Linked DNA regions of Homo sapiens. The protein of the gene in region 1 purifies or fractionates together with the protein of each later gene. This does not show direct contact. Each region holds a gene or a part of one and is shown on either strand. Other genes may lie near its edges.

Region 1 (4,187 bases):
CCAGTTGAGAAGGAATTAGATATTTGACTTTAATGCTGCTAGGTTGCAGACCGTGCACACAGAGGGTAAATGATATCAAAGCCTTGTTCCTCCTGGTTCAACTATATCAATAAGAAATGCAGTCAAGGCACCTGCAAATAGCAAAAATCAACCTTGCTTAGCATTTGCTTGTAAGGCGATTGGGGTGCTGCTTAAAGCAATGGGGTTAGCATCCCCTGTCAGCAACACTTACTCTTCTTTCCTAAGAAGCTCCTCCTCAGATTCCGTCAGGCGTTGCCTCAGTACAGCTATCATTTCCACGGCCACGTCCACCTGTCTGTTTAAGGCCCGCTCTCGTCTCTGAACTTCCTGCTTTTTCTGAGTCAGCTGCACAAAAGCTGCCCGAACTTCCAACAGTTCCGCAGTTTTCTGGGCCAACTCTTTGGTGAGTTTATCAATTCTCTTCTCAATGGTCCTATCCACAGCCTCAACCATTCGATTGAATTTTTCTCTGACATGTGCCTCGAAAGAAGCTTTGGTGTCTGAGGTGGGCAGTCCAGGACCCGACCGTGTCCCATCCAGCGAGTCTGCATGGAGGTCCATGGCAGTGTAGGTCTGCACATAGGACACAGGCCTCTCTGCCACCACCTCAAATGGCTTCCTGTCCTTGGAATGTTCATGTGAAATGCTGTACAAGTTAACATAGCTCGGTTTCTGCTTTACCACGTTGCCACTGCTCTGCAATTTTCCCGGTTTCAGGAGTTCTGAGGAAGTGACTAGGTCTGTGTCTTTGAGGGATGGAAAGAGACTGCATTTTGTCAAGAGGGTTCTTTCTTCGTAGCTGTGACTGAACTCCAGATGGGCCCTCAAGGATGACAAGCTTCTAAATCTGGTATGGTCTCCACACCTCGGGCAGCGTAATGGCAGGCACACAGCAACATTCTCAAAGGACTCCTGCCAGGGATATCTGCTTTCCTCAAAAGCCTTCTGTTGCATTACTCTAAAAGTCCTGGGAGGGGGGAAATAGGTAGTTTACAAGTCGGCTGAAAAACACACTACTAAAATGATTGCTGCTCATCTCCATGACAGCAGAGGCTTTTTGGTTTCAAGTGACTTTTGCACATAATATTTTATGTTGCACTTAAAACCTACAGCCCATGGGCCAAATCCATCCACATCAATTTCTGCATTATTTACTGCTGCCGTATCAATTTCTGTATTATTTATTGTAAACCACAATGGCAGTGGTGAGTAACTGAGACAGAGACTCTATGCTCCTAAAAGCTAAAATATTTACTACCTTTACAGAAAAAGTTTGCCAACTCCTACCTAGAATCAAAAAGGTGGGTAACATTCCCTCTCCACAGAAGAGAACACTGAAGCAAGGAAGTAAAGCCATTAATCCAAGGTCAGATGGAAAGTGGTAGATCCAGAAGTGGAATTCAAGTTTCCTCCCCTCCTGAATTTGGCACACTAAATGCAAAACCGTGCCCCATTTTAAGGATACAATCCGAGATGCGTGAACACAAGAACATATGAAAACTCACATGAATTGTCAAAATGGGTCCTAAGACAGCAAGCTCAGGACCTATCCTCAAGTACAGGAAAGATTACTCAAGCTATGCACAGTGGCATTAAGCCTGCAATCAGCTGAAAATTTTTCACCCTGAAATTTTTGCCTTTTTTTCCTTCAGGTATTGCTGTGATGACATAAACCAAAGTGCTAATCGTAACAATAACAGACCCCATACGTGAGTTTCACTGAAACCTGGGGACCCAATGTGTCAAATACCATTTGGCATAAGTGGGGCCATGGCCAAGATTTTTATTATAATAGAGTGTTCTGGACGGATTTGTCTTGTCTCAGATGCTATTTTATATGACAACCTCTAGGGATGGTCAGTGTGTGAACCAGGTAGGTATCAGCATACTCTCTTAATAACAGGAAGTTCTGGTTTCCTTGTAGGAATGCATTATCTTCACCCTAGCAACAGATGACTGTTGGCAACCCAATTCTGCAAGCAGTGCATATCTTCTATTCCTCCATGAAAGGTTTCTACTTAAATGTAACAAGCATTGGACCCGAAATGAGGGAGCCCAGCTGGGGTCTTTGGGTGAAAAGTGTCCTCAACCTCTTCAAAAGCAGAGGTGCAAATGGTCCCCAGGCAGCGAGGCAGGCAAGGCTTCTAGGTGAAGCCCCCGGCCCCCAGAGAGGGGAACCTCTTCCTGTGATGGGTACACCGGGATGTTTAACCACTGGTTTTCTGGGAACGAGATGCAAACCCTGGCTCAGCATAGGGCCAAAGACGCTGACAAGAGGTAAGGAAAGGGGAAGTCAGGATTCTAAGGGGGCAATGGGAAAAGGGTGGCATTTTGGATGGGGAAATGGGTAATCACACACTCCAGAGCACGCAGGCTTTTATGGGCCCAGAGGAAACCCAGTCCACTGGGCTGATGAAGAGCCCTAAGTGACTCTGCCAGAGAAGGGCAGGCTGGCAATGACCCTGCCCCGGGGTCCCAGCTCTCCCCGCCCCCTCTCCGCTGCGTGCCAGCCCACGGGTGCCAGAGTGGATTCGTGTGCACATGAGTTCCTGCTGGTGGGGGCCGGGAAGCCGGCTCTCCCAACTCCCCGCCATGCTGCGGGCTCGGGGACCCCCTCCCCAGCCCCGGCCACCCCGGCAGGTCCCCTCCGCCGAGCCGCGGGCGCAGATGGCCGGCGGCCGCCTCTTACCCGACTTGTTGCTGCTGCTGCTGCAGCCGCCGCCTCCGGTGCTGATGCTGCGGGAGCGAAGCGGTTTTCAGCAGAGCCGTAAATCAGACTGAGCCGGGCCGGCTCCCACTCCCCGCCGCACCTCCGCGCCGGGACCGGCGGCGTCCAGGGCGGAGCGAGGCGCGGCTAGCCAGCGGGGGCGGCGCTCGCGGGCACCGTGGGGCACCGCGCCGTGGGTGCGGGGGTTCCGGAACGCCGCGGCCCAGGGCTGCCACCTCCGCGGGGAACACCCTTGCTCTGCCCAGCTGGCGGGAGCATCATCTGCCCCCCCGCCACCCAGCCGGGAGCCCGATCCGACTCAGGATTACACTGACATCACTGCGAGAGATGCTGGGATCATTCCCCGGGGGAGGGAAGGAAAGACGCGTGTCAGCCTCGCAGTCGCGGCGCTTTCTGCAGGCCCTGGCAAGCTTTTTTGCACTAGTTTGGGGGGAGCGGGAGAGTGTGGATGAGGATGCAGCATAGCTGGGCATCTTCTTTGAAAATCTACCCGTTGGAAGGTCCGGGTATTTAATTAGGACCTCTTCATCCCAAGCAGCAGGGCGAGAATGTCCCAAAATAACTAACCCAGAGAGTACACTCCAGCCTTCCTAGCCAAGTGTCCTGAGGCTACGTTAACAGGCAGAACTAAATCTAGTAAAGTGCAGGGATTAATGAACAAACAGTTAAAGCAACAAGATCCCTCACCTACACCCCCATTTCTGAGGCGGACGCCCCTTTCCCTGGAGAAAAAATTTGTCCTCCTAAAGAGGGGATGTCCTGAAGAGAAGACGGCAAATCATTCCTTCTGAAGGACTCTGATGTCTCAGCTTGCTGGGCTTTTGCTTTTTTTTTTTTTTTTTTTTTTTTTTAACCTGTTTTGGTTTACCCCTACTGTAACTCCTGAAATGTGAAACCTAGATAAAAGTTACTGCTGGGTTTTCTTGTTCAAAGAAGAGAAGAGATTCTGTTCATCTGTAGACAGTTAATGCATCCTCTTGACTTCTCAGGGTGTCTTTTCTCAAGGCTTGCTGTTACTCATTTCAACACCCGATTTTATTTTAACGGTAAAGAGCTCAACAGTTATCTTAGTTGAAATTTTGTTTTGTTTTTGACAAATGAAAACAAATGAATTGCTTTGTTTTTTCACAAATGAATTATCACATCAAATGCAATGAAGATCCCAAGCTCTGGCATCAGACTTGATTCAAATCCTGGTTCTAGGGCCTGGGTCAAGTAACTAGACTTTTCTGTTCCTTCAATTCCTCATCTATGAAATGAAGATAATCAAGACCTACCTCTTAATATAGCGGTGGATCGAATGTGCTATGATGATGGAGGTAAAAACCCTGCCTGACAGGGACACACACTGATAAAGTCAGCTGTTATCGTTGTTGCTACTTCATTTATAATTATTATTAATTCCATAAAAAAGGGGCCTACACACATTTAAAAAGCA
Region 2 (3,500 bases), on another chromosome or scaffold:
ATACTAGGTGCTCAATCATTACTTGCCATGTGGAATAACGAATGTTTCCCTTTGGCGTGTGGGGAGCAAAGGCTGTCCTGGACTCATTCTCCAAAGCCATTCCCACAGGTAGGGTGTTGATCACTGACGTGTACCTGCCATCAGGATCCTCGCTCCCACCTGCCCAGAGGGATGTGGCACTGTCACAGTGAGCAGAGGCTCCCAGCAACCCCGACCACAGAGAGGAAAAGACCCAGCGTGTTCTCCTCCTTCTCCCCCTTCCACATTCTCTGCTCCTCTCCTTCCCGGTCCACTCCACCCCACTCCTCCCTACCTCTTCTGCCGTTTTCGTCCCCTTTTTCATTTCTGTCCTCCACTCCTACCAAAATCAAAACAGAGGACAGGCTGCTCGTCACCACCAGGCTGTGGTTCAGCACACAGTCATGACCCTCGAGACCACATACACCTGTCATGTCTCATGAGGAAAAATGCAGAGACCCTGACCAAGCGGGCCACCGTCGCGGGACATGACCCTTGAAATCAGTCTACCTCTCAGGCATGCCCTCAGGTGGGCACCAGCTTCACGCGGCCACAGCAGCCATGCAACTGCAAGGGAAGCTGCTGGCCAGTCTGCTAGCAACCCAGGCTGTGGTGGGGAGGAGACCAAAGGCTGATACTGGATTCAGAGGATATTTAGTCACTACTTTTCTTTCCTCGGGACCCAAGGAGCATTTACAGGGACCTATAAGAGCAAAGAGTCACTTTACTTTTCTTTCCTCGGGACCCAAGGGGCATTTACAGGGACCTATGAGAGCAAAGTGCAGTCTCCTTTCAAGGAAAAGTAAGAAGAGTAAATGAGTAAGAAATTGCAAGGGTTGCCCTTACATAGTTGCCCAACTCATTGCTTGAATTAAACAAAAAAGTATTTTGTTTAAACTATGTCATCCATGCACCTACTGGGTTATGGTAGGACAAAGATCCTACCAAGAACTTCCAAGGCTTGTTTAGTTCTTGTATTTGTTCTAATATTTATTCTCCTTGTGACTGCTGACTAATATGCACCATCCCGTGCATGCCTCTGATGTACTAGGCAAGGGCTGAGCGTTCTGCAGGGACTAACGCATTTACATCTGAACAACAGCCCAATGAAGCAGGTTTAACTAAGCTCCTTGTTTAATGGGTGAGGCAGCAGACGATTAGAGAGGATAAATAACTGTTCTGAGAACTCGCAGGAGGTAAGCATAGGAGTACTACCTGGGAGTTAACTGAGCCCAGCGCCTCTGCTCTTAACCATGAAGCTCCAAGCCTCACAGGCACTGCACACAAGCTCCTTAGAAAGATTGCCCACCCCAGAGAGGCGGCAGGAAGCTGGGCCTTACCAGTTGTGATCAGATAGGCATCGGGGACTGTGATATCACAAACATATGGCGGCTTGGCAGTAGCCAGTGTTGGTGTGTCGACTGTTGCTTCGAGAGTGAAGGCAGTCACGGGACGCAGGGATGGCAGGGGAGGAGCAGCACTACTCTCTGGGGGGCTCTGACTTGCGGCGTCACCCATCAGGGTGGAGTCGAGGGGACCACCAGTGGCAGCACCGGTGCTGGTTGTGCTCACTTCCGTGGAGGTGTTCAGTGGCACCTCTGTGGGTGTGAGTGATGGGCCCACGACGGTCAGCTCTGTGGGCAGAGGGAAGGGGGTTGCTTCAGAAACAAACGAGGATCCTGATGGCAGGTACGCGTCAGTGATCAACACCGTACCAGTGGGAATGGCTTTGGAGAAAGAGGCCAGGACAGACACGTGACCGTCTAGAGCACTGATTTGGTCGTCAGGAGGTGTCAGAGTTGAGAACAAAGAAGACTCAGTTAAAATGGGCGTTGTGTGGACAGTGGTCAATGGTGATGTTGCTTGAATCCCGGCAGTCAAAATGTCAAAAGACTCAGAGCCGGGGGGCACCAGTGCAGTGACTGCGGATTCATGGGAAATGAGTGAAGACTCAAGATAGGAGGTAGTTTCAATGAAAGCTGAGGTAAAATGAGCTTCTGAATCCGTCAGTGAAACCGTAGACGCTTCAACAAACTCGAGAGAATCAGAAGGGAAGCTTGACCATGGTGACACCTCAGAACGGCTAGGTAGCAACATGATGGTGTTTAAAGGCAGCTCGGAACTTGGCTGGAGCTGCGAAAACTCAAGATTTGTGGAACTGGGAAGAGACAGCTGAGATGACTGCAGATCACTAGAGTCAAACAATGTAAATGTCTCAACCAAGGGAGAAAAAGACTGAGATGTGAAGGGGGACAAGTCACTCGGCATCAGAGACAGAGACGCAGGTGCTTCCGAAGGCGAAGAGATGGAGCCGCTGAGTTCCAGCGGGGGTGTTGAGAAAAAGCTGGATGCAAAATCCAAAGCACCTCTGGGTTTATGCTCAGAAAAACTGGAACGTTCTTGGTCAGAGAAAAGTGAAGACTCCACTGAAGGAACCAGACTATAAGGCGTAAAAACACTCGGGTCTCTGACGGCAAGCGACGGTGTGTTTTTGTTTGCTATGACAGAGAAAGATGAGTCAAGGAGAATGCTGGTGATGACCGAGAAAAATGCAGTGGTCACGCTGGATGGCGTCACTTGGGTTTCAGCAACAGACAAGGAGCCAGCAGTAGGATCAAGTGACGCCGGCACAGAGAGGCGGCCGTGGGCAGGGGGAACCTGTGTGGTTGTAACACTACTCATATCCACCTCGGCAGAAATGCCAACACTCGTCTCTGAGATTTCCATGGATCTAGAAGAAAGTGGGACGATAGGTCTGGAGGGGAAAAGCGTATTAAATACTTGAGGATCTTCCTCAAATTCAGAGAAGTCTGCTACGACGCTACTCATTAGAGAGATGCTGCTTTCTTCCAGCACGGTCATGCACAGAGTCTCGGCACCATCCCCTGATCCCACGTCTTTCTCCATGAGGCTCGTGGCCAGAACTTGCTGAGGTGAAGGCACAGTGCAGGCCGCACACCAAGTGTATGGTCTGAATGAGGACACCGGGCTCAGGATATGAGTGTTGTCCACAGGACCGGGGAGGGCTGAATTGCTATGCAATTCGGATGTTTTGCTGGAGTCGCTAGGGAGAAAGGGGTTAGATGAAACATCAGTTGGTGAAGCAGAGGACGCAAATGCAAGAGGAGTTGAAAGCAATGGAGAATGTGTCCTGCTGAATGCAAGGGCTGCGTGCGATGCAGTCACAGTGGGGTATGTTCTTGGAGAGATGGTTTCTTCTAGGCTTTGACTCAACACAGTGGTCACATCAGTGTATCTGTCTGCACTTGTGGCCCAAACCTCCTCTGGAGGCTGTGAGACCTCCCCCAAGGAGGGCAACGGTATAGTAATGCCGTCGCCTAACGGCTGTGGCATTAAAGACCGGGAGCTTAAAAAAAGGGTGGTTTCCACACCCTCTGTTAGGGAAGCCACAATCTCTGGCAGAGTCCTGCTTGATAAATGACTGTAAGCATCAGTAGGATAAAGCACCAAATTCCTGCCAG

Evidence for each region.
Region 2: the proteins of ZNF365 (region 1) and KIAA1549 purify together in Homo sapiens (affinity purification with mass spectrometry; one large-scale study listed by BioGRID and IntAct). This does not show direct contact.

Annotation. Positions count from the first base shown.
Region 1 is NC_000010.11:62,372,982-62,377,168, reverse strand, and holds the start of ZNF365 (protein ZNF365), read right to left. Parts: upstream 2,801-4,187; 5' UTR 2,711-2,800; intron 2,299-2,710; exon of another isoform or gene 2,042-2,298; intron 989-2,041; 5' UTR 976-988; coding exon 233-975; intron 1-232. UniProt on the Homo sapiens protein: Involved in the regulation of neurogenesis. Negatively regulates neurite outgrowth. Involved in the morphogenesis of basket cells in the somatosensory cortex during embryogenesis.
Region 2 is NC_000007.14:138,915,390-138,918,889, forward strand, and holds part of KIAA1549 (UPF0606 protein KIAA1549), read right to left. Parts: coding exon 1,359-3,500; intron 1-1,358. UniProt on the Homo sapiens protein: May play a role in photoreceptor function.